Linked DNA regions of Homo sapiens. The protein of the gene in region 1 purifies or fractionates together with the protein of each later gene. This does not show direct contact. Each region holds a gene or a part of one and is shown on either strand. Other genes may lie near its edges.

Region 1 (3,750 bases):
TGGCCTATGTAGTCATGGGCACAAACATCACCCCATTTTACCTCTTGGGTGGGAGGACAGCCAGAAAGGGCTTTAAGCTGACCCATTAAAGCAAAAGCACTTATGTATGACAGGTATCCACCCAGTCCCCACAGAGAGCTCAGGCCAACCCTTGTTGGTTAATTATAATCTGCTTAGAGACAGGCCAGCGTGAGAAAGAGGGCAGTCAGAAGGACCAGCACTTACAGCAGGGTGGCCAGAGATCAGGACATTCCAGCCAGAAACCTTTACCTGCTGTTGGTTCCACTTGAGGTCAGGGATGAGGACAAAACCATCAGAGGGATCTGGGTTCTCGAAAACAATCCGGTCCGCTTCAGCCTTCTTGTCGAGAATGTTATACACCCACTGAAAGGAGGGGGAGAGAGATGGTTCACAAATCCACTCATCACCCCTTGAGAGATACCCCAAACTGAGCTCAGGGCATTCCCTGGCCTCTCCAGGAGACAGAACCAAGCCATAAAAGGCCGCCACGCTCAGAGGATCTACATCCGGGCTGCCCTGTCCCCAAGCATCTGTTCTTAGGGGTCCAGAAGGGACTTCCCCCTTCCCACTCCAGCTGGCACTCAGCCATGCGTCATCACAAGGGTCTCTGCAGCTTGGAAGGGGCCAGGCTCTTCCTGGTCAGCATAGTGCACATGCTCTGCGGAGGCCTCCAAACCCAGGCTGTGTCTGCCCTCTATAGCAGTGACCCCCTCCACCGCTCACAGGACTCAGGGGAAGAGCTGCCTCCATGGATCCTATTTCACTCTATTCAGGACTATGGGGCAAAGAGAGGTAGGAGGCTGAGGGCACCACGGTTTCCTTCTGTGGAGGGGCCAGCTACCCACCAGAGCAGTGAGAGCCTTTGCCTCTAGCAGCTCATGTGTGCACGTTTCCCGCCGCACTGGGATTCTCATCAGCAGTGGGCTCAGCACCTCTGCCCGCCTGGAGCCGCTGCAGATGCCGGTTTATCAGCAGTCTCTGCTGACACAGACCCCGCATGGCAAAGCAGAAACGAAAGCTATGTAGAGACACAGAGACAGTGACCTCACCAAGACCTTTCAGGGCTACCCAGGGCTCCCAGCCCTTGTGTCACCCTTGGATCAGCTGCTGTCAACAGTCTGCAGAGGACCTTTCCCAGGCCTGTGTTGACCCAAGGACATTACTTTACAGAGATGGTCCTGGAGGCCTGTCTGAGGTTAGGAGGCTGCAGGAGGTTGGGCTGAGAAGGCCCCTGAGCTCACAGGCCTCAAACCCCAGTACCCCCAGCTCTCCTCTACTTCCCCCGGCTCTCAGGGCCCTTTGCAAACATGAACTCATGCAGGACAGTGAACTCTGCCCTACATCTGGGGGAGAGACCTGCTAGGAAACCAGAGAGGGGAGTGGCTGAGGACATACTACTGCCCCTTCCTCCTCACAGTCAGAATGGTCTCCGAGCTCACTGATGTAGGAGAAGGAGCCATGGACACGAGGTGGGATGGGGAGGCCAGGGAACCGACACTACCAGGCAGCCATCCATGGTCCTCCTTCCACTCCCAGAAGTGCTGGACAGGTAGCATCACCGAAGGCTAGAGGCACGGGGACTGCCTTATGGTCCACACAACCTCACACCTTGAGCCTGGAGGGCTGAACACACTGCATTGCATCCTCGCCTCTCAGCTGGGATGGACCGGGGGAGAGGGCAGCTGGGCCTCGAGGTCTCCTGCAACTCTCTACCCACAGGAAGCATTTCAGCTCAGAGGGCCCCAAACCCCTGACAAGACCCACAGGCCGGTCACAATGTGGTCCATTCACAACAAAAGACAGGCAGTTCCCAAGAAACCGAATGAGGCCCCTTCCTGGGAGGGGTCTGGAGGACACCTGGCAGCCACTTCCTCATGCAGTGCCGGGGCCAGAGCAATGCATGGCCAGTACATCCACAGAGGCATTTCCTCTCTGACCTGAAATCTCCTGGGAATGTGATGCCAGAGGAAGCCAGCGGAAATACAAGGGAGGGAGGGAGACGGCATTCCCTACAGACAGCCCCAACGCACCCCATAAGCAGGCCTCCCCACGGCCAGTCCCTGATTCACAGAAAAGGGGCATCTGCCTGTGACTAGTATAAGAGTGAGAGTGAACAGGTTCTGAGCCAAGGAGACCTGGTTTCATCTCCCAGCTGTCACTGGGTGAGCGACTGATGCCTCCTTTGTAAAATGGGGCTGATGATATCTACATAAGGGTGGTGAAGGTTTTCAGAGAACACGCACATGAAAGCACCTAGCACAGCCAGTATAAGGGAGACCCCCACGAGTGGCAAAGGTGGTGGGATGGTATGCCAGAGGCTACAAAACTGACTGGGGACAGGAAAAGAGGGAAAGGCGGTGAGAGCAAAGGAGGTGGTGAGAGAGGAAATAAGAGCGGGGCTGGAGGACGAGTGACTGCAGGAAGGAGTGATGACTGTGAGAGCAGCTGCACTCTGCCTGGCACTGCTCTCAGCGTCACAGCAACCCTGAGAGGTGGCTGCTATCATTGTCGCCATTTTTTTTTTTTTTTTTTTGAGATGGAGTCTTGCTCTTTCGCCCAGACTAGAGTGCAGTGGCGTGATTTCGGCTCACTGCAACCTCCGCCTCCCAGGTTCAAGCGATTCTCTTGCCTCAGTAGCTGGGATTATAGGTGCCCACCACCACACCCGACTAATTTTTATATTTTTAGTAGAGACAGGTTTTTTTGTTGGTTTTTGTTTTTTGTTTTTTCTGAGACGGAGTTTCACACTTGGCTGGAATGCAATGGCGTGATCTCAGCTCACTGCAACCTCCACCTCCCAGGTTCAAGTGATTCTCCTGCCTCAGCCTCCCAAGAAGCTGGGATTACAGGCGTGTGCCACCACACCCAGCTAATTTTTGTATTTTTAGTAGAGATGGGTTGCGTCATGTTGGCCAGGCTGGTCTCAAACTCCTGACCTCAAGTGAACTGCCCACCTTGGCCCAAAGTGCTGGGATTACAGGCATAAGCCACCGCGCCTGGACATTGTCCCCATTTTACAGTTAAGAAGAATGCAAGTGCAAGGAAGTTCACGCTGGGTCAGCCAATTCCAACCATGAGTATCTGGCTCCTGAGCCTGCACCCTGGGCCAAGGTACATCCTGTCTCCTGGGAGAGGCCTCTGGGACAGTGGCAGGGAGCTGCATCCACGGGAAGCCTCCAGGCCAGGGGCCCAGATAAAAAAAAAGGAGAATGAAAGAACAAAATTCACACAAACACAGAGAGCTATGTAATGGGGAGTGCCACCATCTGAAACCATGCCCAAGAACTTGGCCAGCCCTGCTGATAAACTGGGCAGAGGGTGATGCCATCAGCTTTCTGCAACTCACCTGGCTGGACTTCTTTGCAGTAGGTGACATTGGCAGCTCCCTCGGTACCCTCTCTCCCGCCTTGACCTCCCGTGAGACATCTTGCTCCTTCCTCATCACCTCCTGCTCTCTGCTTCTGCCTGCTGCCTTGCACTTCCCCTCCAGCCATGTGTGGCCTGGCCACGTCTCCCAGGTGTCTTAGCTCTGCCCATTGCTGTGCCTGTCCCTCTGAACAGTTACCTAGAGTAGGGGATGGTGGCTGCCATCCTGGCATCATTCTGTGCTGGAAACAATAGCAGGCACATGATATATGGCACCTCTCTCAATTTCCACAACACCCAGGAGGGAGGAGCCATTAGTTACATTTTTCAGACAAGGAAACCAGGGCTCCGAAATTAAGGACA
Region 2 (3,750 bases), on another chromosome or scaffold:
TCCACAAAGCCTAAAATATTTACTATCTGGCTCTTTATTAAAAACAAATTAAAAATTCAAAAAAAGCCTGACCCCTGCTCTAGGACAAGTCTCCAGAAGTGGCTTTGGCTCAACATAAAAGAGAAAAAAATGAACTACTATCTTGCAAAATAGAGCTGTGATGAACTCCTATAGAAGATTCAAGTCTGAGTCTGCCTAGGCAGCTGTTAGGAATGTAGGCAGAACAAAAATAGTGTAGTCCTTTGATGACGTCCCTAAGATGAGGCAAGGACTGGAAGGAAGCCACACGGGCACAAGATGCAAATGTCATCTAAAGCAGCTCTGCCAGGAGAGGGCTGTGAGTTCTTGCAGACATCTGATCATTTTCCCTTTTCCTAGCTTACCCTCCACTTTACTGTGATACAGCAAAACAGTTCTAGTTACCTCTTATGAAGAGACTGCATGAACATAAATGACTACAGCAATGGTTTAGATTTAGGACTTTTATTTTTTTCACACCCAAGTTAGCCTGAGTTGACTCTCATTGTTCCCCTATCTACCCACAGTCCCCATCCAACACGAAGAAATATTTGCTTTCACATTACAGCATAAAGACCACCTAAGCTTTGACAGCTGACTTGTAGTGGGTCAGCGTGCGGGCAGAAGGGTCAGTGGCATTGATCCACTTGGGCATCCAGTAATGGCTCAGCCAGTCAGCCCGGCCTGGGTAATGGCGTTCAAAGACTTGACGGTAGTAATATCCTTCTTTGGTTTTAGGAGTATTGAAGGGAAATTTCTGGGCTGCATTTGCCATCATTGCATCATCAACCTGTAAGAATAAGCATATAAGAGCAAAATGGCTTAAAATGGCAGGAAATACTTGTGTTTAGTCTCATTTCACGAAACAGAAAATGTTAAGACGTGACTGTAACTTGTATGAGACCCTTTGAATCACCCATCACTTAGAAAATGCTAAAGTATTCATAATATGGATAGCTGCAGTGCCTTTTAAAGAACACTCATATGCATATTTTTAATACTTGGTGGCTCTGTTTTAGTCATTTGTGCCTAACAAGATCTGGCACCCAGCAGGTGCCCAAAAATCTGATAAATGAAAATCAGTGATGATTAGTAGTAAGTCTCCTCTCTCTCTCGATTCTAGATGCTACTTTATAATCCTTCATGCTACTTAATTCTTACGTAATTCTTACAAAAGAGATAATTGTTTACAGAGACTCTGAATCTCTCTGATAGGGACATCCTATCAGAGAGATATCTGATGTATGTATCATTCAAACTAAATACATGTATCATTCAAACTAAATACATGTATCATTCAAACTAAATACAAAATGAACAGCAATGACAGCTCTGCATCCAAACTGTCTTATTCCTGAAAATGTTTTTAAAGACATTATACCTGATGTTCAACGTATTCCTGTAAAATCTTAAACCAGGAATTCTTAACTGAAGTTATTCCATCACTGAAGGCTTCTTTTGGTCGCCAGAGAATCTCTTTGGGTATCAGATTGGAATCCTCAAACGTCTCTCTCAGGAGATGTTTTTCTATCCCATTCTGACGTGACAAAAAAAGGAGCATCAGGTAAAAATTACAAATATAATCTGATGGCAATGGACAGTTTTACCTTGAGTTGATTTACCTACCTTTGGAATTCTCATTTCTGGTGGCAGAGACAAGTAATAGGAAGAAAATCGATGATCTAGAAATGGGACTCTCAGTTCAAGACTTAAAGGAGAAAAGAAGAAAATCTAAATTAAAATGGGTATTTAGTGCCTGCCAGGTTAGGTTCTGATTCAGTTTCCCATCAATTCAACCAGATCTTAAGAAATGTTAAGGTCATACAGTCACATACAAGCCTCCTAATGACTGCCCTACACTAATGAATAGATACAAAAAATAAATCTTCATTTAAAATAATACATATATCATGTCATCTAGGGAGTAAAACTAACTGAGACTATTACTTTTACTTTCCCTTCTAGGAATAGTTAAATGCATATTTCAAAAAGCAGAAAAAGTTACAAAACATGAGTGACCCAATCATTAAGAAAATACCTTGCCTAGACCTAACTCAGTGTTTACTAGGTGAGACCATCTCTTCTAACAATTGTGATGACGATACAGTATTTTTTTGCCACTGATTAAAAATTCACATACAATATGCGATATAAACCAGTGTCCCACTATATTTCATCAAATTCCAAATCACCGGTTTCCTGAAGCCTAGTGACTCTAGTTAGGACAAGCAGAGAGGATAATGACCAGATTCAGTTCATTCCTCAAACCCATATTTAATTATATCCTTATCTAGGTGTGATTCAGCAGAGGCAACTAAGACATTTAATGTCAGTTGTTTATCCTGTACAGTAAAAGTCTTCAGTTCTTCAACATAACTTTAGACAACTAGAAATGATAACCAAAGAAACCTGGTTCTTTATAATGTAATCAAACCCCTTGTATCTTCACTACTCTATTCCCTCAGGGTCACTACAGCACCACATGGGCATGGTGGGCACTCACTACTTGTCACATGATGTTTACGATCTTTACTTCTCTTTAAAACACTTAACGGTAGCTGCTGTAGCAGCCTTGCCTCTTCCATCTTGGTTGTTCAGATGTGAGCAGAATGTTGTTACCCTTTAAAGGTGAAAACTCCACCTCAAACAACCTATGGAAGAAGACTTCTCTCCATATACCACAACACCACTTTGAAATGTGGCCTAATCCTTTTGGGACAAAGTTAAGAAACAGCTTCATTTTCTCTATAAAAGTCACACTTTGTAACATATAGCCAACTATATGTAACATATAGCCAATCAGCTATTGATTTTTATTTTCTCAGGGTATTGAGCTTTTTGTTTTGTTTTGTTTTTGGTGTTTTTTTGTTTTTGTTTTACAATAGCCTCTAAAAATATTACCCATGGGCAGCAGTAGTTCGATCTGCGCGGAGAACATCAAACAAATAGAGTTCCCTCAGAAGCCTCTCACTCTCCTCCTCGGCTTTTTCAGGAGAAGGAGCCTATTTCACAAACAAAAACACCAAGAGTTTTGCTTTTGGCACACAAAGCAGTTTTTCTTTCTCCCTCTCCAATCCTAAAGGTGGATAAGACAAAAAGTTAAACAAATTTAGGGAAGGGAGTAAATAACTGAACAGAGGTAAGCAATGCTTCACAAAACATGCCTTCCTTCCTACCAAACTGCTAATATTAGAATAAAATGAACACAATGGGCAACAGTCATAATTCCACAGGATGCTAAGAAATGGCAGAAAGGGGATTCTCAAGCTTAAGTAGTTTTATTTATTTATTTTTAACTTTTTTTTTTTTTTTTTTAAGAGACGGGGTCTTACTCTGTCAACCAGGCAGGAGTGCAGTGGTGCAATCACAGCTCACTGCAGCCTCAATCTCCTGGGTTCAGGTGATCCTCCCACCTCAGCCTCCTCAGCAGCTGGGGGTATGAGCATGAGCCCTCATACCCAGCTGTAACTAGTTTTAAAGAATAAAAATTATCTGACACATTAAAATTTCTTTCTTCCCCAAGAGATAGAAAGCAAACACTATCAGATTCCCTTTTGTAACCTCACAAGATACTCAAAAATATCACTGTCATACTGAAAGATGATAGAAAATAGTCAAACAATTCATACTTTTCTTAATATAGCATGAATATCCCTCCACTTCAGAGTGGTTACCTTGTGAAAATATATGTAACCCTGCGTAAGTTCATCTGATCCTTCTCCAGAGAAGATC

Evidence for each region. The genes of interacting proteins can lie anywhere in the genome.
Region 2: the proteins of DCPS (region 1) and ASNS fractionate together in Homo sapiens (co-fractionation; 2 studies listed by BioGRID). This does not show direct contact.

The regions. Positions count from the first base shown.
Region 1 is NC_000011.10:126,334,920-126,338,669, reverse strand, and holds part of DCPS (m7GpppX diphosphatase), read right to left. Parts: intron 385-3,750; coding exon 271-384; intron 1-270. UniProt on the Homo sapiens protein: Decapping scavenger enzyme that catalyzes the cleavage of a residual cap structure following the degradation of mRNAs by the 3'->5' exosome-mediated mRNA decay pathway.
Region 2 is NC_000007.14:97,851,661-97,855,410, forward strand, and holds the end of ASNS (asparagine synthetase [glutamine-hydrolyzing]), read right to left. Parts: coding exon 3,693-3,750; intron 3,095-3,692; exon of another isoform or gene 3,021-3,094; coding exon 2,920-3,020; intron 1,727-2,919; coding exon 1,645-1,726; intron 1,556-1,644; coding exon 1,400-1,555; intron 809-1,399; coding exon 599-808; 3' UTR 17-598; downstream 1-16.